Linked DNA regions of Homo sapiens. The protein of the gene in region 3 purifies or fractionates together with the protein of the main gene of each other region. This does not show direct contact. Each region holds a gene or a part of one and is shown on either strand. Other genes may lie near its edges.

Region 1 (2,233 bases), on a different chromosome or scaffold from region 3:
TTACAGGCGTGAGCCACCGCGCCTGGCGAGAAGGTGAATTTGAGCTGGGTCTTGGAGAATGGGTAAGATTTGACTGGAGGGTGGGAGGGGGCTTCTCATTGAGGAGATCAGGCCCTCCTGGGGAAGGGACAGATGGGCTGGCGCCAGGCTTACTTTGAGGTGCTCAGAAGGGCCTTCGTCCTGGCCCAGCATGGACCCTGTGGCTTTGCACGACCTTTTCTCCCTGAATCTCTGTCCCATGTGTGTTGCTCAGGGACTCAGGGGAATGATCAGAGTGGGCGAGGCTGGTATGGTGGCCACCTGGGCACAGGGGCCCTTCCTGCCTCTGAGATATCCCTTAAGTCTCTCCCCAGCCCCACTCTCTCCTCTCAGTGACACAGAAATGAGACTCTGAACAAGTCCCTTGCCCAGCGTCATGCAGGGACCTCAAAGAGGCCCTCCAGATAGGAGGGTGGGGACCCGGCCCAGGTGCCCAGGGCAGCACAAGTCAGACACCTGCCTCAGAGCTTTTCTTTGTTTTTATTTTAAAGGAAAAAAACAAAAAAGAACAAAAAAACCAAAAAAAAAACAGTGCAAAAACCCATTTTCCAGTGTCAGCCTTGCCCACCCCCACCCCCAGGCCACCCCAGCTGTGAGCCTGACTCTTCCTCCCACTCAGCACCCCCTCCCCCCTCATGCATCCCCTAGGGGCTGGAGGCTCCACTTCCCTGGAGGGCCAGATCCCAGGAGGAACTGTGGGGTGGAAAAAACGGAGGGGGGGGAACAGCCCCAGATCCACCTGCCCCCCAGGTCTCCAGCCACCGGCACCAGGTGCACCAGGTACTCCTCTTGGCTCTCATTAACCCTCTCCTGGTCATGCTACTAGCTGGGGAGGGGTGGGGGGTACTGATCTGGGGGAACTCCCTCTGCACCCCTCTTTGCCCCGGGGCCGGCTCGGGGCTCTCCTCACTGAGGTTGGGGGGCTCCCTCCCTCCATCATGGGGGAGAGCAGTGAAACCCCCAAGTTTAAATACCTTAATGAAAGCAGGGGCTGGGGAGGAAGGGGCTTTAGATCTAATAAATTATTAGCGTTTTAGTGTCCGTGGGAGTGGGGGTGGGGTGGGGCAGGATGTGGCCTCCAGGGCCCCTCCCTCCCCTTACTGGTGAATCTCATTCTCTATGAGGCTGTCCTCGCAAGACTGGAAGTCTGTGTCCGTGAGGGCGTCGGGTGGCATCAGCAACTCCTCATCTTGGGATGAGGATGATGGGGGCTCATCCCCTGAGCTCCCAGGAGCCCCATCCCCATCCCCGTCCACCTCTGAGTCCTGCAGCACCTGAGCGATGTATTTCTGAAGGAGGAGAGGAAATGGGGGCAAGGTGAACAGCTGCCCCTCATGGATTGCGGGAACACCAGGGCATGTAGGACAGCAGAGTGGGCAGGGCCCTGGGGGGCGGGGGCAGCCCTCCAGGGAGACCAGCTCTCTTCCCGCCCCCATGGGGTCTGGCACAGGTTCCCCTTTCTGCAGGACTAAGGGAACACTGGGCTTTGAGGCTGAGTCTGTCAGAGGCCCCTCCCAACCCTTGAGGGCACTCACCGCAGATTTGGGGACAGCAGCAGCAGTGGGGGGCCGTCCATTGCTTCTGGGGTCCACAGTATCTGTCTCCGTGTGCTCAATCTTGAGGGGCCCAGAATGAGTCAGGAAGTGGGGGCATGTCCTCAGCCCTGATCATGACCCCACGCCCGCTTGGCCCTGTTGGCGCTGCCCTCAGCCCTCGCCAGCCCTGTGGCCCTCTGCATTCCTCCCCTTGAGCTCCTGCCCGCAGCCATCCGCCTGCCACCCTTGCCCCACACCTTGTAGTTGTGGGCACTGAGGTATTTGAAGTGTCCAAAGCAGACGTGGCAGAGACAGATGACGATGGTGATGACCAGGACCACAAATGTGAACATAGACGTGGGAGCTAGGAACCCTGGTGTTGGGGGGCAAAGAATGGGGTTGCTATCTCCTGTGGGCCTCCCCACCCCAGCTTCTGATACCCTCTGAATGCAGTCCTCACTCTCCCAGGTGCTACAGACTGGCCCCAGCCTCTCCCAGGCCCCTTGCCTGCCACCCCCAGCCATGCGGCTTCTCCTGTGGCCTGCTCTGGCTGGAATCCACTCTGCTCGCCACCCCCCGTTCCCTGGGTAGGGATCCCTCACCCGTGCGCATGGTGGAAAAGAAGAGCAGCCAGAAGAGGCAGAGGATGGGCGCGGCCA
Region 2 (3,500 bases), on a different chromosome or scaffold from region 3:
GCATCTACCTACAGCCTTCACTTCCTCTCGCAGCCCCTTGACCTTCCTCATAATCCTTCCCCACTCTGTACATGGCTGATTTCTGTCTCCACAGCCTCCCTGACAATGCAAGCTCTGTAACCATCTCCCAGGTGAGCTATAACAATTGTAAAACAATGAAACCATACGCTGTCTTAGTTCCTCTTTACACTTTCCCAAATTCCTCTCAAGTACACACATGCTCATTCCAGGTTACACCAGCCCTGTGATTCAGGCAAAGACACAAAGGCCAGGGTGGGCAATATTCTTCCCCCTTTCACAGGCAGATAAGCTGTAGTGAGAGAGGGCACTTGGCTGGCTTGTTCAGTCCCACATTGAGTTAATGGCAGAGCTCCTTGCAGCATGCTTTTCCCAAGACAGTGGCATTCCATAGGCCTTGGGGACAGGTGTCATGAGGCACTCCGGTAGGAATTCTCTTTCGCACCAGTTAATTAATACTCTAGCTGCCCTGGCTGTCAGCACTGGTGCACCAGACTGGCCGTCAGCTCATTAGGATGAGGTTGTGCTGCCTGCATGGTGCGGGAGCCCTTGGTTAAGGCTCATCATATTCCATTGATCACTCCCATTAATAGATTACTGGTGTCATTATGACAATGCTGATGGCACAGGGCCCTGGCTTTTAGATGGCCTGTTCTTGGAGGCTGATGCCCTGAGGGGATGCAGGCCAGTTGAGTGAGGACAGTTCTGTGGCTGTAGCTCAGGAGGCTCTGCCATGCTCCCAGTGCAGCTTTCCCCATCTACACCCACAGGCCAGCTCGACCCTCTGCCCTTTTCACCCAGCCCCATGGGCTCTATTTCTCCTTGTCTGCATTTCTCTCAGATCTGCAATCTCTTGGGTCAGTCTGTCAAAGAGTAGAAGTTCCATGGGGTGGGAATAGTGGGGAGGGGAGAGAAGGACATAGGACTTAGAACTGGAAGACATGATTTGCCTTCCTGCTTTGAGTTCTGACCCCACCTCGGGTGAGCTGTGATAATACGAATGTATCACTTAACTCCCGAGTCTTAGTTTTTTTTTCACTAACAAAAAAAAAAAAGAAAAGAAAAGAGAATGGATAGAATCTTTGGGTCCAGGTATATTTTGAAATCCAGAATTTTCTGAATCTTAGAAAGGTAATACATGTATATACCATATATTATATAATACCCTCAGTGGATTTCAGACAGCACTCTATAATCAAATATATTACTATTTCTTCAGTGAAACCTTTGACTATTCACTCAAAGTGAGGTTACAACCATGAATAGCCTCGTGTCATTTCTGGTCAGATTTTTCTGCCAGATAAAATACAAAACAACCCTTTCTGTTTTCAGAGCTTTTTGGATTTCGGAATTGTGGACATGTAACTGTCTAGTGACCCTCCATGTAGATACCTGCCAGGCCCTTCCTCCTCCTTTTTCCTTGAGTCTTACCATCTGTGCTCGTTCTCCCAGGCTCTGAACTCATGAAACGCTGTTTAGGATGAGCATGCAAAGAATTACAGAATCATGGGGCTGGTAAGCACCCCAACCTCCCAGACACACAGTTCCATGAAAACAAACTCTGAGGCAGTAAAAGAAGCCAAGGAACCACATTTTGTTGCCTGATTTCCATTAAGCCCCATTGATTCCATTTTTGAGCAAGGGGCTCCATGCTTTTTAATGGTAGGTTTTCCAGTGTGTCTCCTGAGTTTATCTTGAGTTCATGACTTTGAGGCTCAATCCTGACAAAAAGGATGAACTCTCTAACACAGTGGTCTGCAGAAGAATACACTGCTTTGCAGAGAGTGAGTTTTTCATCCCTGGGGGTGATCAAGTGGAAATGCAGATTGGAGGGGGATTGAAATAAGTAAACTATTGCTATCTTAGAATGTATACTTCTGAGTTACAAGGAAGGGACTTTAGGATAATTCCCCATGCCCTAGTGGTCCCTAACCAACTCCATCTTGCAACCTGTGGCTTTCTATGCAAAGTTCTACATGCACAGGAGCTGAGCCATTCCCAGGATACCAAGACACCCATGTTTTCCAGTTGCTTCCTTCCCATGGCACTTCCAGAGAAAGTCCCCACCAAGGCTCTTGGGCACTTGCCCAACTTCCCTCGGGGTCACACTCTGTCCAGAGAGATGGAAATGCTTGCTCTTTACCGTGGCAAGCTGCTCTCCGAGGCCCCGGGGGACTTCCCGCTCCTTCTCGTTGTCAAGCTTATTACCCAGCAGAAGAACAGGCACCCGGTCTCCCACAGCTTCCTGCAGAACAGAAAATGTTTTCAACTGAGAGGGGTGTCATAGGATTGCCCAGAGGGCAGGCTAACAATGCCGGCTGGACAGATGGGACCTCGCTTGAGAATCCCCTGCTGCCATAAAAGGTGAGGCCGTAACAGAGTCATCCTGAAAGCAGAAAACAGCCGCCTTCTCCAAGAGCCTCAGTTTATCATGCTTTTGCAAGGTGCCTGAGGCCTGCCTGTGGTGTCTCCTAGTCCCTGTGTGTGCAATGACCGCTCCCCCTTCACGATGCTCCTTGGATCTTAGATGGAACAGCAGGCCCCCCAAGGTGTGCTGGATGAGGGGACAGTTGATGCCAACAGGCTGCATGCCTCCTTCCAGAGCTTACAGCACCCTGAGGGCGTGCCTAATTGGCCAGGCTTAGTCCGATGGACCAAGGCCATGAATGCCCCATGGTTTGGAGTTGTTCTGGAGGCTGCTTTGATTAGAAACTGCATCACTAGAGGCCTCCTGATTGCACATAAGCTTCTGAGGGTTGGATCCAAATCTGCCTCATGGTCTTGCGCCCACAAGGCTCCATAAATGACTGCCATGTGCCTTGCTGGAGGCTGGCACCACAGACCCCTGTCACTGGGCGCTTTGGCTCTGAAGAAAGCCCTGTGTAAGAAGGAACACTGTGGCCATAGCAGCTGCACTGCTTGGGCCAGAAGTCACAGGTTTATTCAAGGTATCACATTGTTTACTTCCCCAATGGCTGTGGCTTACCAGCCAGGGGCCTGCTTCCCGGGTCTCCACCTCCTCCCTGGTGAAAGGGGCACCGTGTGTGTCTCTCCTGAGGGCGCCCAAAGGGCCCGGGACCACCGACTGCCATTCAGTGAGTAAATGTGGTAATGTGCACATTGAAGAAGGTTGTTATTTTTACTTAAATATTTAATTAGGGGCTTTTAATCATAATTTAGTAACAAATAGTTATTCATTGTAGCTAAATGTTTTACTAAATAGAGGGACCTGTGGGATAACAGAAGCTAATAAGCAGTTACAGTTTTGCCAATACTTTAGCTGTTTTACTTGAGCATTTCAAATAAATGTCCAAAGTCCATCTTACAGATATACCAATTTTAAATTTAAATGCTATTATGTTTGAAATTAAGCCTCAATGTTTCCTTAATCTGTGCATTCGTTTTTACTGCCATTTAATAGGGGAAAAAAATTCTTATTTAACAAATGAGAAAGTTAAGGCTCAGAGAATCAAAAAGAACAT
Region 3 (3,500 bases):
TTGAGACAGAGTTTTGCTCTGTTGCCCAGGCTGGAGTGCAGTGGCGCAATCTCGGCTCACTGCAACCTCCGCCTCCCAGGTTCAAGTGATTCTCCTGCTTCAGCCTCCCGAGTAGCTGGGATTACAGGTGCTCGCCACCACGCCCAGTGGCACAATCTCGGCTCACTGAAACCTCTGCATCCCGGGTTCAAATGATTCTTGTGCCTCAGCCTCCCAAGTAGCTAGGACTACAGGCACGAACCACCATGCCCAACTAATTTTTGTATTTTTAGTAGAGACAGGGTTTCACCATGTTGGCCAGGCTGCTCTTGAACTCCTGGCCTTAAGTGATCTGCCCACCTCGGCTTCCCAAAGTGCTGGGATTACAGGCTTGAGCCATGGTGCCGGGACCACATGCAACTTCAATCTCTCACCCACATCAAGGGGTATAAATGACACAGCAGTGAGCTCATGGAGTTAAGAAGTTTAGGCCTCAGCACACCTTGCTGGAAAGAGTCCCAGCTAGGCTTACAGCACAGCTTGTGAACTATGCGAGGTGGGAGATCAAATGATAGCTTTTTAATCTGTCTAAATTTCATGAACTCCATCTCTAAGAATAAGCAAGAGGAAAAACAAAATGGACCCTTGAGAAATGTCACAAGTTGTAAAACAGCCCTCAAACACAAGAAGTGCAGTTTAATATGTAAATATTGAAAAATGTTTTACACAATGAAATGTAATAACCAAAATTAAAAGAAAAGCCACAGAATGGAAAAAATATATGTGAAAGTATATTTAATAAAAGTGCACTACCTAAAATATATAAAGAATTGTTAAAAATATATAAAAATAGATACAAATACATAATATTCAGATTCTACTTGACTAATAGAGAAGATAGGTAGTTTAAAGTAAGAGGAAATACTGATAGGTAATACAAGGAAATATGAAAAGCCTATCATTTAAAGAGATACAAATTTAATGCCTTTACCTACATATTAAGCTAAAAAAGCTAAATCCACTATTAGCCAGGATGGTAGAAAAAGAAGTACAAAATCCCCAAAGTATGATAAAGTTGTCCAATCTCTGGAGCCCGATCTTAAACACTAGAAATCTATAAAACTATTCATAAGCTTTAATAAAATAATTTTGAATTACAATGCAAAATAATTTTTGGCTTATCTTAAATCCTTTGTGAAAAAGGTCAGTGAGGCAGGGTTAACTGTATACATAAATACATGCATAAATACCTACCTCTAAATTTATTATTTTGTAATTTATTATGTTTGTATAATTTTTGTTTTTTGAGATGGGGTCTCTTGTCACCCAGGCTGAATACAGTGCCATGATCAAAGCTCACTGCAGCCTTGACCTCCTGGGCTCAAGCAATCCTCCCACCTCAGCTTCCCCAGTAGCTGGGACCACAGATGTGCACCACCATGCTCAGCTAATTTTGGTATTTTTTGTAGAGATGGGGGTTTTACCATGTTGCCCAGGCTGGTCTCGAACTCCTGAGCTCAAGTGATCTGCCTGCCTCAGCCTCCCCCACAGTGTTGGGATTACAGGCATGAGCCACTGCACCAGCTGATAAGTGTTTTTTTTTTTTTGTAAGAGCAAAACAAAAAAACCCAGGCATGATTTTAAAAGCTGGCAAGAGTGGCTAAATAAACTGATATTTCAATATATTATACAATTATTTAAAATAATAAATATAATGGCCTTTGTAGGATACATACATATTAAATTATTTACAAAGCAAGACACACAATAGTGTACAATGTAAGATCAATTACCTCTATCTAAAAAAAGTGTACAGTAGTAGACTGACAGAGTCAAAGTAGATGAATGGTGATTTATAGGCAGAAGTTGCTATATATTTGATTGTGTTCTTTAAAATGTGCATGAGGCCAGGTATGCTGGCTCATGCTTGTAATCCCAACACTTTGGGAGGCTGAGGCAGGAGAATTGCTTGAACTCAGGAGTTCAAGATCAGCCTAGGCAACATGGCAAGACCTCATCTCTACTAAAAATAAAAAAAAAAAATTAGCCAGGCGAGATGGTGCACACCTGTAGTCCCAAGTTCTCAGGAGGCTGAGGCAGGAGGATTTCTTGAGCCTGGGAGGTGGAGGCTGCAATGAGTGGTGATTGTCACTGCACTCCAGCCTAGGTGACAAAGTGAGACTCTGTCTCTAAAATAAAATAAAATGTGCATGAATATTTTTAAGGAATACATTTGCCTCAGAGAGGAACTTCTCAAATAACTGAAATCCTAATTATCACTCAAAACAGCTGTCAGGTATCTTCCAATACTCTGACAAAAGGAATTTACATTCCTAATGAAAAGGTTGAGGAGTAATTGGAGAATGGTAAAAGTATTCTATGCTCACCTGGAAGACGGGTACTACTTGGGATATCCCATGTGGTTCCACTGGATCTTTCAATAAGATGCAGAGGTAGTAAATCACCTTCTGCTGTAAGAAAATAAATCAAATAGCAAAGTCTAAGTGAAACTCATTTTGCATTCTTTTTTTCTTTTTCCTTTATTTATTTATTTTTGAGACAGAGTCTCTCTCTGTTGCCCAAGCTGCAGTGCAGTGGCGCAATCTCGGCTCACTGCAACCTCTACCTCCCAGGTTCAAGCGATTCTCCTGCCTCAGCCTCCCAAGTAGCTGGGATTACAGGCGCTCGCCACCATGCCCGGCTAATTTTTTGTATTTTTAGTAGAGATGGGGTTTCACCATGTTGGTCAGGCTGGTCTGGAACTCCCGACCTTAGGTGATCCGCCTGCCTTGGCCTCCCAAAGTGCTGGGATTACAGGCGTGAGCCACCACACCTGGCCACATTCTATTTTTCTAAGGGAAGGCTCAACACTTTTTCACAAATGTTTAAGTAGTAGAACACTTGATAGCTTTTGAAGTGGAAGAAAAGTATATTCTCATTCTTTAAATGAAAAAAGACAGGGCCAGGCGTAGTGGCTCAAACCTGTAAACTGAACACTTGGGGAGGCCACAGCAGGAGGATGGCTTGAGCCCAGGAATTCAAGACCAGCCTAGGCAACATAGTGAGACTGCATCTCTGCAAAACATAGAAAAAACGAGCCAAGCATGGTGGTGCATGCCTGTAGTCCCAGCTACTCAGGAGGCTGAGGTGGGAGAATGGCTTGAGCCTGGGAAGTTGAGGCTGCAGTGAGCTGTGATCGAGCCACTGCACTCCAGCCTGGGCAACAGAGTGAGACCCTGTCTCAAAAAAAAAAAAAGAAAAAAGATAGAAAGAGAAGGAAAAAATGCCAGTGATAATTTTGAAGTTGGTCTTGAAGATAAAGTTGAAATGCTAATTCCCTATCCATGAAAACCTGCTGCATCTCTTTAAAAATAAAGAGATTTACCTTTTAAATATAAGTCTCACTTTTACGGTTTTAGTTTAAATCTGGGAACATCCCATGGGCTGGCTACCTCCTCCAGAGAGGCCTGTAATACTTACCTTTTAAATACTTACCATGTAAATGGCCTCATTGATGACAA
Region 4 (3,500 bases), on a different chromosome or scaffold from region 3:
CATACTCATCTACCAGTATTCTTCAAACTGCTTTTTGGGATGGATGCTAATTAATTTTAGTTGCAATGACCAAAATACAAAACTAAAGAAAAAAAAATAATGTCATAAGACAATCATTTGGCTGAATAAAATTCCTTCAATCTGTATCTTTACATATGATTTACCAATCAGTTGAGTAGTACATTTCGTTGGCTAAAGGTAATTGGAAATATTTTCTGTTCTAAAATTGACTACTCTTGCACAGACCCAGCCCTGAATTCATTATAATCAGACAGCTTAAATCATATGGCATGCAAAGCTTCCATTAAAATCTAAAAATGTCTCACGCCTGTAATCCCAGCACTTTGGAAGGCCGAGGCGGGAGGATAACGAAGTCAGGAGATCAAGACCAACCTGGTTAACAGGGTGAAACCCCGTCTCTACTAAAAATACAAAAAAATTAGCCGGGCGTGGTGGTGGGTGCCTGTAGTCCCAGCTACTCGGGAGGCTGATGCAGGAGAATGGCGTGAACCTGGGAGGTGGAGCTTGCAGTGAGCCCAGATCTTGCCACTGCACTCCAGCCTAGGAAAAAGAGTAAGACTCCATCTCAAAAAAAAAAAATCTAAAAATGTCCCAAAACATATGTTTTGTTGAACATCTACTATGTGAAAAACATTACGATATTCAGGCTGTGAGATACAAAGATGAATAAGAAATCTTCTCCCCGCTTCAAGACGAGTGTTTTTGGTTAAGATGTACAGCTAAAATACAAAATACACACCAAGTAAAGTGTAACAGAAGAAAACCTAAAGGATTAGAGTGAAAACTTATTAAAATACAATCATTTTAATCATCTGCTACAGATATCACTAAGAGATCAATATCATCCTTTAATTTAAAGCCAAATCGTGAGTTTTTTTTTTTTTTTTTTTGAGACAGGGTCTCTGTTGCCCAGGCTGGACTGCAGTGGCACAATGACAGCTCACTGCAGCCTTGGCTTCCTGGGTTCAATTGAATCTTCCACCTCAGCCTCCAAAGCAGCTGGCACCACAGGCATGTGCCATGCCCAACTGATTTTTGCAGTTTTTGTATAGATTGGGTCTTAGTATGTTTCCCAGGCTGGTTTCAAACTCTTTCGCTCAAGCAATATTCCCACCTTGGCCTCCCAAAGTGCTGAGATAATAGGCATGACCCATCATGTCCGGCCCTTTATTTCCGGTATTCTTAATCCTTTATAATCTCCCTTCAAGAATATCAGAATTAAAATCCCATATAACTGATGGAAATTTTCATAGGAGCATTTGGTCTAAATTTCTAGGCTCCCAAAAGAAAAAATAATAAATGTAGAGCAATCGACATATGTGACTGCTGCAACCCCTTGAGAAAAGACGAGTGTGTATACAGCTAAAATACAAATTAAGTAAGAGTAACTCTTATTCTTTTAGAGCTGTGTTTGTCTCAGAACCAAATAAAGTATTTTAAGAGGATACTGGAGGACCTTTTGGAAAGCTATTATTTGACTTGAAAGAATGTGCAAGATAAATCATGTCTGTGGACTTGAAACTGAAAATAACAAAAGGTTTATAAAAAGAAGCAAGACTATTCTAAAAGAGAGTTTGAGGATAGTTTGCTTTGTTTTTAGCTGTCATCTCCTTGGTAGAGAGTGTGCATACAGACACACACACACATATGTATATATAATGTATACATATTTATACATGTGTATATATTTATGATATGTACACAACATGATCCCCTTGCCATCGTGAATAAGGCCAGGGTGTATCAAGATTTAATTTTTGAGAAATCATCATGCCTTTAGAAACACTCAGGACGCTCTGCTGTCCTAGCCCCATGCCCTCACCTGTCTTTTCATCCCAACAGGGCTGGCTCAGGTGCTGCCCCAATAGAGCTGTCCTGGATTCCCCTAGGCAAGGTCACGTGCTTTCTCCTTGGTATCACCACTGAACCTGGTACAGATCTTGATTACAGTATTAATCACAAGTTACTGAAATTATCCGTTTCCTTTCTAGACAGTGAGGTACTAGAGAACAGTGAACCTGGAACCTAGCAGAGTGCCTGGTAAAATACATACACTCAGCATTTTTAGAACAGATAACTGGGGGTATCTCAAAGTGCCACAGAAGAAGAAAATTCTACTAGGGCCATAAAACCACTAGGCATTATGTTAATCAAGTTATCTTAGAAGAATAAATCATCCATTCCTTCCACAATTACTTGCTTGGCTCCTACCAAGGTGCCATGAGGGACACAGCTTAAAACACAAAACACACAAGGTACCAGTCTTCAGGGAGCTTACATTTTAGAGGAGAATGAGGAAAAGAGACAACTCTTAAAAATTATAGCAATGGAATATGTACAATATTTAAGATATTTTGCATGATCTCTAGAAGACTTAAATAACCTAGGCCAGTCACCAAGAAATGTACACTATGGTTATGGGAATGATAAACGCAAAGATAATGAATAACAAAGACAAAATACAGGATGAATGCTAACTGCATAGAACAAAAAAATAAGTGAGAATTCATTGTGAGCACTTTGGGCTAAGAGGATCATTAACAACTTTCTGGGTTTGTGACAGACTTGGGAGGGGAGGGAGGCTGTGAGCAGAAAAACACTAAGTGTTTTTTCTATTCTCTTATTCAACAATCAACACAGAAGACTTCAGTGACCAAATGTGCAAGGATTTCTCCCCAGCAACAAGCAAGCAATCAATTCTGCAGTGGATACCAGCTGGGTATCCTCCAAGTGAATTCTGACACTATTTACCTGGAGATGGTGTCAGATCCCACAGTTAAGGGTTCAGTCCCACAAAATTGCCCCCCACTACTTCTGATGCCAATCACAAGCCCCGGGTCATTTTACCTATGCTTCTGATGAACTGTTTATAAATTGGGGTTCCCACGACACCCTCCTTGGGTTCCATTAATTTGCTGTAGTGGCTTGGGGAACTCAGGGAAACACTTCCCGTTTACCAGTTTATTATAAAAGATAAAGATGAAGAGATGCATAGAGTGAGGTATGCGGGAAAAGGCACTGAGTTTTCACGCCCTCCCAGGGCAAGCTACCTTCAGGTACCTCCACTGTTCAGCTATCCAGAAACTCCCTGAACCAGTCCTCTTGGACCTTTATGGAGACTTCATTGGATAGTCATGATTGAACCATGTTGAAAAGTGATTGGACAAAAAGCATACGATTTAATACTAATAGACTGAATGGGGAAACCCAGCAAGGCCTGTCTGATCAGATTTTTCTGGCATCTCTGTGCAGCATTCCTTCCTCCAGGGTATGGGGCAGGATCCCTTCTGAAATGGGGGTCTTATGGCCTACATTCAGACAAGGTAGATGGGAGAATTTCTTTATGGGCAGTTCTCACACAGAAAGATGGGGAAAGATTATAGTTTTAGTTTCTAAAATTGGAGAGACAAAGGTAAAAATAGGGCAGGTCAAAGATGGAGATTGTTTTCTGAGGCCTGCTTCTGCTTCTGAGGCCTAAA
Region 5 (3,995 bases), on a different chromosome or scaffold from region 3:
TTTCCCCATAACATGCGTTCTCACATAATTGCATGTATTTCTGGGGTACAGTGTGATGGTTCCATACATATACACATTGTGCAACCATCTAATCAGGGTAATTAGCACATCCATCACCAAAACACTTGTCATTTCTTTGTGGTGAGAATATTCAAAATCCTCTCTTCTAGCTATTTTGAAGTTAACATTATCGTTGAGTATAGTCATCCAAACGTGCAAGAGAATACCAAAACTTATTCCTTCTAACTATAACTTTGTGTCTGTTGACCAACCTCTCCCCATCTTCCTCCCCACTAACTCTCCTCTGTACAAGAATAACCACTCTTTTACTCCCTACTTTCACGAGATCAACTTAAAAAAAAACTTTTTAAAACGACTGCATGATATGTTTTCAGGCTCACACATTTAAAAACCGTGACTTTGGCAAAGAGTAACTTCATTCTGCTGGGGAAAAAAATTTAAATGGCCTGAGTCCGGAAGCTCGCCAGGGCAGAAGCGCAGGGTCGCTCCGCCGGGCTCGCCGGGCCGGGGACCCCCCAGCCACCCGCCACCACGGCGGGGAGGGCAGGGTGCTGACTCCAGGGACCACGACAGTCGGCCCCGGTGGTGGGGATTCCGCGCGGGACCCACGCGGGAACAAAGAGGCGGCTGGACGGCCCAGCTCTCCGCACCCGGAAGGACCTGTTCCACCTCTCCGGCTCCCGTACCCCTCTATCCGCATCTGAGTGACCAGATCCCACTGCAGTCAACAGCCCGCGGGGTAGCCAGCTTCGAGGGACCGCCCGGAAAGACACAACGCGCGTGGAAGGCGCCGGGCGTCCAGTCTCGGGAGAGATTAGAAGTGGCGCTCCTGCCCAGCGCCGGCAATCCAGGGGAATCCGCGGCCATCGCGGATCCACCAGGGGTGAGGCGGCACTGAGCACAAGTGTGAGGCTCTCGGGAGCTACGCCTCCGCTTCCCCAGTGCCACCCGTTTTTACCTCAGGCGGTTCTGACCGCCATCGTTTCAACCTGGAGAGGTGAGCCCTCCCCTACCGACGCACTTCCCTTCCCCGGCAGGAAGGAGGGCGCTGACCCAGCGGGCGCACGCCCCTGACTGCGCATGCGCCGGGTGCGCCGTTCGTCAGCGGCGAGTGGCCTCGCGGCGCCGGATTCGTCGCTCCGCCAAGAGTGCGCCTGCGCGGTCGCTGGGGCTCGCACTTCAGCTTCCCCTCCCCCGGCGCCCTCTGGGGCTCCGAGCCCGGCGGGACCATGTTCACCAGCACCGGCTCCAGTGGGCTCTGTGAGTACCGGCCTCCGCCATCCTGGCTGCCCCCTACACGCCACCCTAGGCACCTCTTTGAGGAGGCTGGGGCAGCGGGGACCCTCGGGTTTGCCGGAGGTGGTGGGGCCGACCCTCCAGACCCGCGTCCGAACCCTGCTAGTTCCCGGTCTTGGGGGTCAGCGGAAACCGCCCCCATTTCGGCCTGGAGGGGCGAATGGGGACAAAGCCCCGCCGCCCGCCCCGACCCCACCTGGTATCCCCAGGTGCTCTGCCCAGGAGTCTCTTGGGGCCGCTGCAAGTGGGCAGGTGCCCTGGTGTTCTCGTGGGCCGGCCCCAGGCCCTTTGCGGAGCGTGTGCCGCGCTGAAGGAAGGGGCCGTCCCCCTTACCATGCCCCATTCTTTTAGGCTTGGGGGACCGAACTAACTCCCCCCGCCCCCACTTGCAAAGTTCAGCCTCCGCTTTAGAAGCTGACCTCTCAGTTTCACTTGGATGTGTTTCTTCTTCAGTCTCCAAGAAGAGTTTTTAGACAAACACACACTGATGAGAGTGCTTTCAAGTGGAGGGAAGTTAGGAAGTCGTGGCGAGGGAGCGCAGCTGTGCTGCTGGATGTTGCTGTTTTCCTGGCGTGTTAGCGGTGGTCAGCAGGTAGGGGGCGGAGTATTTTTACAGCCAGTTAAACGGCTTTTCTCACTGAGTGTGTGGAATTGACTTTCGGTAAGGTAGACTGCGTGTTAACAGTTAGGCACGGGTACAGCAACGGAGAACAGCTCTAATTTTGCAATTGCTTGTCACTGTTCATACTCCATGTGAAGTTAATGCTGCTGGAGGACAGAAACATCTGACATTTCCAAATATTAAAGATCTGTTGGCCGGGCGCGGTGGCTCACGCCTGTAATCCCAGCACTTTGGGAGGCCGAGGTGGGCGGATCACGAGGTCAGGAGATCGAGACCATCCTGGCTAACACGGTGAAACCCCGTCTCTCTACTAAAAACACAAAAAATTAGCTGGGCGTGGTGGCGGGTGCCTGTATTCCCAGCTACTCGGGAGGCTGAGGCAGGAGAATGGCGTGAACCCGGGAGGCGGAGCTTGCAGCGAGCCGAGATTGCGCCACTGCACTTTGGCCTGGGCGACAAAGCGAGACTCCATCTCAAAAAAAAAAAAAAAAAAAAAAGATCTGTTGGGAATGTCATGAATCTTCTGAGAATGTGTGTCTCGTCTTATAGTCTGACAGTGAGTTAGTATCAGCGCCACAGGCATAATTTTAAATCTTCCTCACTTCTCAACTTCTCAGGTTTTGAAGTGGTTTCAATATTTATGATTTCCTTTGTTTCATAATTAATTTGATTTATGGCATCTTTCATGGATTGGTCCCGGAGTATGTTACAACTACTAAGTAATCTTCCCCAAACTACCCTTTAGATAAAGAGCATTAGGACTGTAGCTGAAGCTGACAGTTCAAGAAGGCAATGTGGTTTTCCTGGGATCACACAGTGAGCCAGGAACTACTGGTTATGAAATTAATGGTGGAATTCTTCAATTTCAATTGTTCTTTAGCATTTTGATCTATCCTTGCTGGCCAAAGTACATATAAAAAAATAAAGGGCAAGAGAAATCTTATTGGTTGCTGTACTGTATTAGCCATGAGATTATATTGGCCAAGTGTATTCAAATTTGATACAGGGCAACTGTGGGGAAGATAATATTTTGTTATCTATGGCACATGGTGGTGAGTGTTGAATTCTAGGAACCAAACTGTTGCCCAGGGAGAGGCGTAGGTCTGGAGCCCCTCTGCAGCTGTCTTGGCCTGTTTCTAAAATTAAGTGCTTCTGCAGTGTAAGAGTTGTTGGGATGGCCGTTCCTCAGAAGGCTGTGTCTTACATGCTCATTTTACAAACATTTTGGGCATCTCCTCTGGGCGATGAACTGGGCTAGGTGCTGGGAATGCAGCAACGAACAGGTCCTGGTCTCAGTGCTTACAGTGCTGACGGAGCTTAGGCACAGTTTTCCAGGACTGGTCATTAGAAAAGGCTGTGTGTCAGCTTTAACATTTTTCTCTGGAGAAGCTACCCACTGAGGGAGAAGTGATTTCCTTTGTTTTATTTTATTTATTTATTTATTTATTTATTTATTTATTGAGATGGAGTCTCACTGTTGCCCAGGCTGGAGTGCAGTGGTGGATCTCCGCTCACTGCAACCTCCGCCTCCCGAGTTCAAGCGATTCTCCCGCCTCAGCCTCCCAAGTAGCTGGGATTACAGGTGCCCACCATCACACCTGGCTATTTTTGTATTTTTAGTAGAGACGGGGTTTTGCCATGTTGACCAGGCTGGTCTTGAGCTCCTGACCTCAAGTGGTCCTCCCGCCTCGGCCTCCAAAAGTGCTGGGATTACAGGCGTGAGCCACTGCCTATGATTTCCTTTAGATAAGTTGAGGGACCCTTTAGCAAATCAAAATTCTGATCCTGAGCAAGAATCTGAAAGAAGGACGACACGTGTACCTAGCCCTACCCCCATGGGTGGTGAATAACAGTCCCTTTCCAGGGATAAATCCCTGCCATTTTCTACCACCTGCATGTTTCCCACGTTTTGTGGTTAGTAGATAATAGTATTTTAGTGTTAAACTTGCCTTTCTCTCTCATCCATTCAATAAGTGTCTGTTGGGTACCCATATCAGCCACACACTGTTGATATACAGAGGATAAAGTAATAAGCAGGATCAAGGAGACCAGCATC
Region 6 (3,500 bases), on a different chromosome or scaffold from region 3:
GCTCTAGTTGTCTTTTAGGACACTGACCCACTTCAGTTTCTAGGTGTTAACCCCTTTGACTCTGACCCACTTAAATTTCTAGGTGTTAACCCCCTTTGACTCCTTTAATGCTTTTGAATGAATATTTTGTTTTAATTGAAATAATTTTATATAAAGTGAGCTTATAACATGGTACAAGAAGGCAAGGATGTAGGAAGTTACTTATTCATTCAAGTCATTGGACTAGTAAAGCAAAATAATTTCATAGGCCTAAAATAATCTTAGGGAATTAAAAAAGGAAATGTGAGAAAGGGGATTTTTGCTGCTTCAAAATTTTTATCATTAGGCCAAGAATTAGACTACAGTTGACCAAACTGGCTTTCTGTTTTAACCCTACCATTTATATTTTACATCTGTCTGCCAGTTTTATTTCCTTAAAAAGGAGCTCACTGATTTGTTCTAAACTGATTCACTAAAATAATCATAAAACTTTACATCAAAATTTAACTTGTGGTTCAGTCTAGAAACAGATGGCCAATAAATGTTTTAATGAGGAGACATGGAGATAAAAGGGCTCTGTCTGCCCTGAAAGCTAAAGCATATGTGGTCTCTGATGTTTCTATAGAAGCATGGTTCACAATTACAGAACAAGCTATGGATCCCATAACATTTCATACCTGAAAGTGTCTCCAGTACGGTCCCAAAAATAAAGGAAATTGTCCTGATCCTGGACTATTAAGTCTCCAGTATTAAGGTAAACATCTCCCTTCTTAAAAACATCACAAAGCAATTTGTCTTTTGTGTGCTTATAAGGCCCAGCATAGCCAAAGAAGGGATTTTTTGCATTCACTCGAGAAATGAGAAGTCCAGGTTCTCCTGCAAGAAAGAACGACATTTTTGCAGCCATCTGATTAAAACTATTGTTACACACACCATGAATGTATCTATATTATATCTGGCCAGCACAACCAATGCTGCTTATCTCAGCTTCCTCTGAACCTATTTCTGTATTTGACATCATTTACCCTTGGTGCCTATATCCAGCACATCCTTTCATAGATTACCACAAATACAAATTACTTTGGAAAAACTAATAAAAAGGGAATTGAATGGAAAGAAAAGCCTCATTAGATTTCTTATACTTCCCAGGTGGATAGACCAACGGCTATTTTTGTTTTGGATTATGTAGATGTTACCACAGATAATATTGACATTTGTTATATAAATAACAAATGTAGTGATAGTGTTAATAAAATAATGATAGCATTTTTTATTGGGCATTTACCATGAGCCCTTTGCAAATGCCACTTTGCTTATTCTGCATAGAAATCCTTTGATATAATCCCTATTTCACCAGCAAGGAACTAGGACCGAGAGGGGTAAAATAGTTGCCACGCTCAGAGAAATAAATGGACCTATAACTCAAATTCAAGTTTTTATGACTTTGTGTGGCAAGGTTTCTGTATAATACTATCTCTGATCCAACACACATGTTATTATAATAAAACAGTTTATTCCTCTGGGATGCTATTCTGGAAATTTTTGATGGGAAAGAGATGAGACATTGAAAAGGTTTCCTATTCTATGATACTTATTAGTTTCAGTTATGTTTAGACACATTATCTGAAATAATTTTCCAATCAAACTTATTCAAATTAATTAAGGTTTTTCTCAGCAATCTGCAAGGTAAAAGCTACTTCTAAGAGAAGACGAGAGGACAAAGGACAGCAGCAATCACTGCTCTGGAAGTCTTCAAGGCTATTGTCCACTTGCTATGCCTGCTGTAAAGTGATGCAGTGTTCATGCGGCTAGATGAAGTTGGAGTCCAGCAAACTATGATACAGAGTGATTTCTGTCTTTTTAATGCTCTTAAAAAAAATAACTCTCACTCTGTGACCCAGGCTGGAGTGAAGTGGCATGATCATGGTCCACCACAGCCTTGACTTCCCAGACTCAACCGATCCTCCCACCTCAACTTCCCAAGTAGCTGGGCTGCAGATGCATGCCACTAGGCCCAGCTAATTTTGTAATTTTTTTGTAGACACGAGGTCTCACCAGGTTGCCCAGCTGATCTAGAACTCTTGGGCTTAAGCCATCCTCCCACCTCAGCCTCCAAAAGTGTTGGGATTACTGGCGTGAGCCACCGCACCCAGCCAACAGTCTTTACTCGACTCCCATTTCTCCCACTCCTGGGCATTCTGGCTTTCAAGGGCACATAGGTCACTGGCCAAAGCAAATCTTCTCTGCCCCAGCAGTCTGATAGCATCATCATCATCATCATCATCATATCATCACCATCATATCATCATATCACCAACACCATCATATCATCATCATCACCATCATTATCATCACAATTATACCTATTGAGCACTTTTTGCATAATAGTCATGATTCTGAGTGTTTTACATATGTAATCCATTTAATTCTCATCACAAACCTATAAGAAAGGCCCAGATAATATCTTCATTTTAAGGTGAAAAAACTGAGGCGTAAAAAAAGGAATTTGCCCAATGTCATACAGCTGTCAAATGCAGGAGTCGGAGTATATATATATATATATCCAGGTACATCTGACTCCAAAGCCTTACCTCTGTGATATATTCTGTCAGTCTACATTCCCTGTATTTCAGAATTTTTCAAGACTCTTATATCTCCCTTAAAACTTACGTTTTTTTTTCTTTTTTAGGACACAGGTGACAGTTTCTTTTCTGACAAACTAATTGTTGCAAATGTTTAAATAGGTCACAGTGTATTCATATCTTTCCTGTCTGGGCATAATTTACATTGTGAAGACACAATGCCTTAATGGAAAAAATATTGAGTAGCTCATAATGAGAATTCCAAAATAGAAAAACAGATATTTGGGGTCAACCAGCTTTTTAAGAAACCCTGAGGTTACATAAGCACAGTTCTGGGATTCAAGTTTTAACATCAGATATTACTATAATTGTAAGAAATAGAACAGTAGAAAAGTGCACTTAAGTTCTTTGCACTCTGCTCAGAAATTATTTTCCCATGGGCAGTGTCTACAGATTAGAATTGGAGAAACATATTTGATAAATGCCAGTAGGCTTGAAATTCAGAGATTTGGGAGATTTGTTTTTTAATAGACAAAGTTTGCATTTTTTATTTTAGTCTTTCAGCTACCAGAAAATAAAAACAGGTTTGTCACCTTATCTTCACATTTGAAGAAAAGATTTAGGAAGCCACTTCTGAAATGCAGTTTCAACATATTTTAAGGCAATACAAATTAATTTTGGCTTGATTTATCCATACTGGATCTCTAAACAATTCTAAGTGCACATCTCTATATTTTATTTTCTAATTTGATTATATGCAGCAGCAAGTTAATTGAAGTACTTGCTTTCATGAAAATTTCTAACCTAAAATTGTAAGAAAGTCTACCTTGGTAGAGAAGGGAGGGGAGTGAGAGGGAGAAGCTGAGGAGAGGAAAGTAACAAGCCACATACCAGGTCCCCCAGGAATATATATACATCCCATTTAATCGTCCACAATAA
Region 7 (3,500 bases), on a different chromosome or scaffold from region 3:
CCGGCAAAAAAAAAAAAAAAGAAATTGCGTGTTACTAGGATCAAAGTAATTATAAACCGACATTTTTGGTGTAATACATAAAAATATAAAATCAAATAAATTACATAAAAAATCCTACTATCATAAATTTGAATTTGGAATATTATGAATTATTTATATTCCCCTTTCTAGAGGATCTGTCTATCTTATCTCTCCTAAAACTTAGACTGTAGTCTCTACAGTTCTAACTGGAAGAAACCAAAGCTTTCTGAAGAAACACCCAACTTCGGTATAGGCTAAAAATGGACTTTGGGAAGGTGGGCAAAAAGCAATGAAGCTATCTGTCGAAGACTGCTGGGATCAAAATAAAGGATACAGGAGCCAGTTTGGAACCCATAGTCCAAAGCTGGAAAAGTTTGCATATCAAAAATAATAACTAGATATTAAATAATATTAATTATCCCTCTTAAATTATTAAGAGGGATAATGATATTACGGTCATTAATGTTCATTTATATGACTGTCAGAGCCTTCTGGGCTGATGAACTCGTCTCAAAATCTTCCTCCTCTCAAAAACATTTCTCCATACATGCTTTACATCTTTTTGTCTGGCTGCTGTATACTGGGTACCCACTTACTGACAGCCACTGTAATAGGTGCTTTTTAAATATTACCCTCAATCACTGCAACAGCACTTCAGAGATAAGAAAAAGAGATGTTATGTGATTGTCTGCCCAAGACCTTATAGCTACTAGATGTCAGAGCCAAGCATTTTTTTCCTTTTCTTTGAGACACAGTCTTGCTCTGTTGCACAGGCTAGTCTTGAACTCCTGGACTCAAGAGGTTCTCCCACCTTGACCTCCCAAAGTGATGGGATTACAGGCATGAGCCATCCCGCCCAGCCTCAGAGCCAAGATTTGAATCTAAGTCTGTCCAGCAGCAAAGCCTGCCCTGTTCCCTATACTATGCGATAATCCCTTTTCCAAAAAATCATGACCACTTGTTTAAAAACCCCGCTTTCAATTCTAAACGCCTATAAGATAAATCTCTTTTACGACCCAATACAAGCTGGACTCAGTCTACCTTTCGAATCACCCTCTGTCCGTTTATCTACAACACAGCTCTGTCTCGAATCAGCTCGCACACATGCACTGCTGTACATTCTGGGCTTTCTACTCCATTCCGCTGGCCTATATTGATCACTCAATGATCTGTATTTTCTATTAGCTTAAAGACAATTCTAATGTCTGACAGATAGAAGGTGATCAGTAAACCTTTGCTAATCAATTACTTTATTTAAAAAATTTTCTTTAAAAATTCTTTTGTACAGACAAGGTTTCACTATATTGCCCAGGCTGGTTTTGAACTCCTGGGCTCAAGCAATCCTCCCGCTTTGGCCTTCCAAAGTGCTGGGATTACATGGCTAAGCTACCATGTCTGGCCCTAGTCAATGAATGAACGCTGGGAATTCATGTCCCCCACATTAAAAGAGCTGTACTTGTACCTGTGAGATGCCTCGAGTGGAGCTGTAGGAACTGGTAATGGCATTGCGGCTGGAGCTAGGGATGCCACTTGCGTAAGCGCCTGTCAAGGAGCTCATGGAAGAGCTTCGGGATCTCTTATTCAAGTGGTCATCTGAGCTCTGAGAATTGAGGCCTCTCTTCAGAGACCCAGGCCTAATAAAAGAGAAGACAGTTAGATGCTTTATTGAAGGCAAAATTCTTTTACGATTTCATCCACGGTCATGACATCTTTCTTAATAACATGAAGGGAAGAGAATAATGCTTTTAATTTTTACTGCTAACAATCTGGCCAAATCTATCTGACAAAGTCAGTAAGAAAAGCCAAATATTTAAAACTTAAATGTATGATTTCCATTTATAGAATATTCTGGAAAATGCATACCTATCTACAGTGACAGAAGACAGATCAGTGGATGCCTGGGAACAGGGGTGGAAGTAAAGAGAGGGATTACAGGCATGTGGGAACTTTTGGAGGTGAAGGATGTTCATTATCTTAGTGGTGGGATGGTTCCACAGGTGTATGTGTGTCAAAATGTCACATGCTTTAAACAAGTACGGTCTATTTTATGTCAATTATATCTCAACAAAGCTATTAAAAAAAAATCAGAGTTAAGAGGAACCCATCATTTTACTAAACCTCCAATGGAAACAGAAATCTCCTACGCATCTTTTCTGTAGGACAGTCATCCAACCTGTTACAATATAGACAACTCTCTCCTAGAGTGACCCACGTCAACCATGAACCAGTTTATTCTTACAGTGGATTACAGTGTATTTCCTCTTTCACCCACGGATCCTATTTGAAGTCAAACAGAGCAAGTTATTTTGCTTCTTTCAAGGGACAGTCCTTTGGTTTTTTGGAGACCATTGTCCTTCCCTCACTTATTTCTTTATTCCCCCTGAGACTTTTCTCCTCTGGGCTAATACTTCCATACCTCCAAAACCCCAACATCCACCACCACCCCTTTGGGCTGTTGCAAATCTCCTTAACATCTTCATTGCTTCACTGGGAATGAATTTCCGTTTGTGTACATCCTCCCTCGCAGTGCAGTACACTGATCTGACCACAGTGCTCCACGGACAGTGAGCAGAACTACGGAAGGCAGGAATACCATCCACCTGCCTCATTCTAGTCTTTCTTCTAACAGCACAGACCAGGAGCACTTTAGCTTTCCTGGCGGCCACATCACACTGCTGACTCAGATGAGGTACCTAAGGTATCCTAAGTCTTTCCACACATACTTTTGAGCCACTTTCCTTTCCACCCAATTCTTCCTCCAATTTGTTTTTAAACTGACATGTAGAAATTTAACATTTAGGTTTCATACTGTTTTATCCACTGCACAAACTTTGCAATCCTTCTGTGTATGTGCTTGGTTATTAAATATATTTATAAAACCTCTTAAGTCTCAGCATATTTCATCCATATTAATGCAAGAACATTAAAAGGAATTAGACAGAAGGCAGTTAACTGTGGCAAGTTACTCAAAACGTTCCTAATTTCAAAGACGTGAACCTGAACCAATTAAGCAATGCAAAAAACAAAGAGGAAAATCTATAGGGCAACAGCTCTGATCAGGCCTTTTTCCAAACAGTTGGTATTTCATCCGGATGGACTCCCACTTACTTAGGCACAAAAGAAGCGGGGACTCCATTGGCCACCAGGGGCTCAAATGCTGAATGTCCACTGCCACTGCTATCATGGCGCCTGCGACAAATCAAAAAAGTCTCAATGAAATGACATGACTTTTTTTGTCCCTTTAAAGTGTATTCTCATATTTCTGGGACCTTATACTATCTCTATGGAGCACAGATTCCATGATAGACCAGAAAATGGTTGTTTAAAATCCCTAAGCTTCTGAAAGGTAAATTTTTTTTTTTTCAGACAGAGTTTCGCTCTTGTTGCCCAGGCTGGAGTGCAATAGCACGATCTTGGCTCACTGCAACAAACCTCTGCCTCCTGGGTTCAAGCGATTCTCCTGCCTCAGCCTCCAGAGT

What was found.
Region 1: the proteins of PIGH (region 3) and TMEM63B purify together in Homo sapiens (co-immunoprecipitation; 2 studies listed by BioGRID and IntAct, with this or other methods). This does not show direct contact.
Region 2: the proteins of PIGH (region 3) and CRACR2A purify together in Homo sapiens (affinity purification with mass spectrometry; one large-scale study listed by BioGRID and IntAct). This does not show direct contact.
Region 4: the proteins of PIGH (region 3) and ANO6 purify together in Homo sapiens (co-immunoprecipitation; 2 studies listed by BioGRID and IntAct, with this or other methods). This does not show direct contact.
Region 5: the proteins of PIGH (region 3) and UBAC2 purify together in Homo sapiens (co-immunoprecipitation; 2 studies listed by BioGRID and IntAct, with this or other methods). This does not show direct contact.
Region 6: the proteins of PIGH (region 3) and SLC27A6 purify together in Homo sapiens (affinity purification with mass spectrometry; 2 studies listed by BioGRID and IntAct, with this or other methods). This does not show direct contact.
Region 7: the proteins of PIGH (region 3) and POM121 purify together in Homo sapiens (affinity purification with mass spectrometry; one large-scale study listed by BioGRID and IntAct). This does not show direct contact.

The regions. Positions count from the first base shown.
Region 1 is NC_000006.12:44,153,787-44,156,019, reverse strand, and holds the end of TMEM63B (mechanosensitive cation channel TMEM63B), read right to left. Parts: coding exon 2,177-2,233; exon of another isoform or gene 2,043-2,176; intron 1,948-2,042; coding exon 1,832-1,947; intron 1,656-1,831; coding exon 1,575-1,655; intron 1,329-1,574; coding exon 1,137-1,328; 3' UTR 501-1,136; downstream 1-500. UniProt on the Homo sapiens protein: Mechanosensitive cation channel with low conductance and high activation threshold. Osmosensitive cation channel preferentially activated by hypotonic stress.
Region 2 is NC_000012.12:3,617,110-3,620,609, forward strand, and holds part of CRACR2A (EF-hand calcium-binding domain-containing protein 4B), read right to left. Parts: intron 2,264-3,500; coding exon 2,162-2,263; intron 1-2,161.
Region 3 is NC_000014.9:67,590,269-67,593,768, forward strand, and holds part of PIGH (phosphatidylinositol N-acetylglucosaminyltransferase subunit H), read right to left. Parts: coding exon 3,475-3,500; intron 2,451-3,474; coding exon 2,367-2,450; intron 2,169-2,366; coding exon of another isoform or gene 2,047-2,168; intron 1-2,046. UniProt on the Homo sapiens protein: Part of the glycosylphosphatidylinositol-N-acetylglucosaminyltransferase (GPI-GnT) complex that catalyzes the transfer of N-acetylglucosamine from UDP-N-acetylglucosamine to phosphatidylinositol and participates in the first step of GPI biosynthesis.
Region 4 is NC_000012.12:45,222,595-45,226,094, reverse strand, and holds part of ANO6 (anoctamin-6), read right to left. Parts: intron 1-3,500. UniProt on the Homo sapiens protein: Small-conductance calcium-activated nonselective cation (SCAN) channel which acts as a regulator of phospholipid scrambling in platelets and osteoblasts.
Region 5 is NC_000013.11:99,199,659-99,203,653, forward strand, and holds the start of UBAC2 (ubiquitin-associated domain-containing protein 2 isoform 1 precursor), read left to right. Parts: upstream 1-1,195; 5' UTR 1,196-1,250; coding exon 1,251-1,281; exon of another isoform or gene 1,282-1,753; coding exon of another isoform or gene 1,754-1,909; intron 1,910-3,995. UniProt on the Homo sapiens protein: Restricts trafficking of FAF2 from the endoplasmic reticulum to lipid droplets.
Region 6 is NC_000005.10:129,024,488-129,027,987, reverse strand, and holds part of SLC27A6 (long-chain fatty acid transport protein 6), read right to left. Parts: intron 856-3,500; coding exon 657-855; intron 1-656. UniProt on the Homo sapiens protein: Mediates the import of long-chain fatty acids (LCFA) into the cell by facilitating their transport at the plasma membrane.
Region 7 is NC_000007.14:72,928,095-72,931,594, reverse strand, and holds part of POM121 (nuclear envelope pore membrane protein POM 121), read right to left. Parts: intron 3,211-3,500; coding exon 3,130-3,210; intron 1,656-3,129; coding exon 1,484-1,655; intron 1-1,483. UniProt on the Homo sapiens protein: Essential component of the nuclear pore complex (NPC). The repeat-containing domain may be involved in anchoring components of the pore complex to the pore membrane. When overexpressed in cells induces the formation of cytoplasmic annulate lamellae (AL).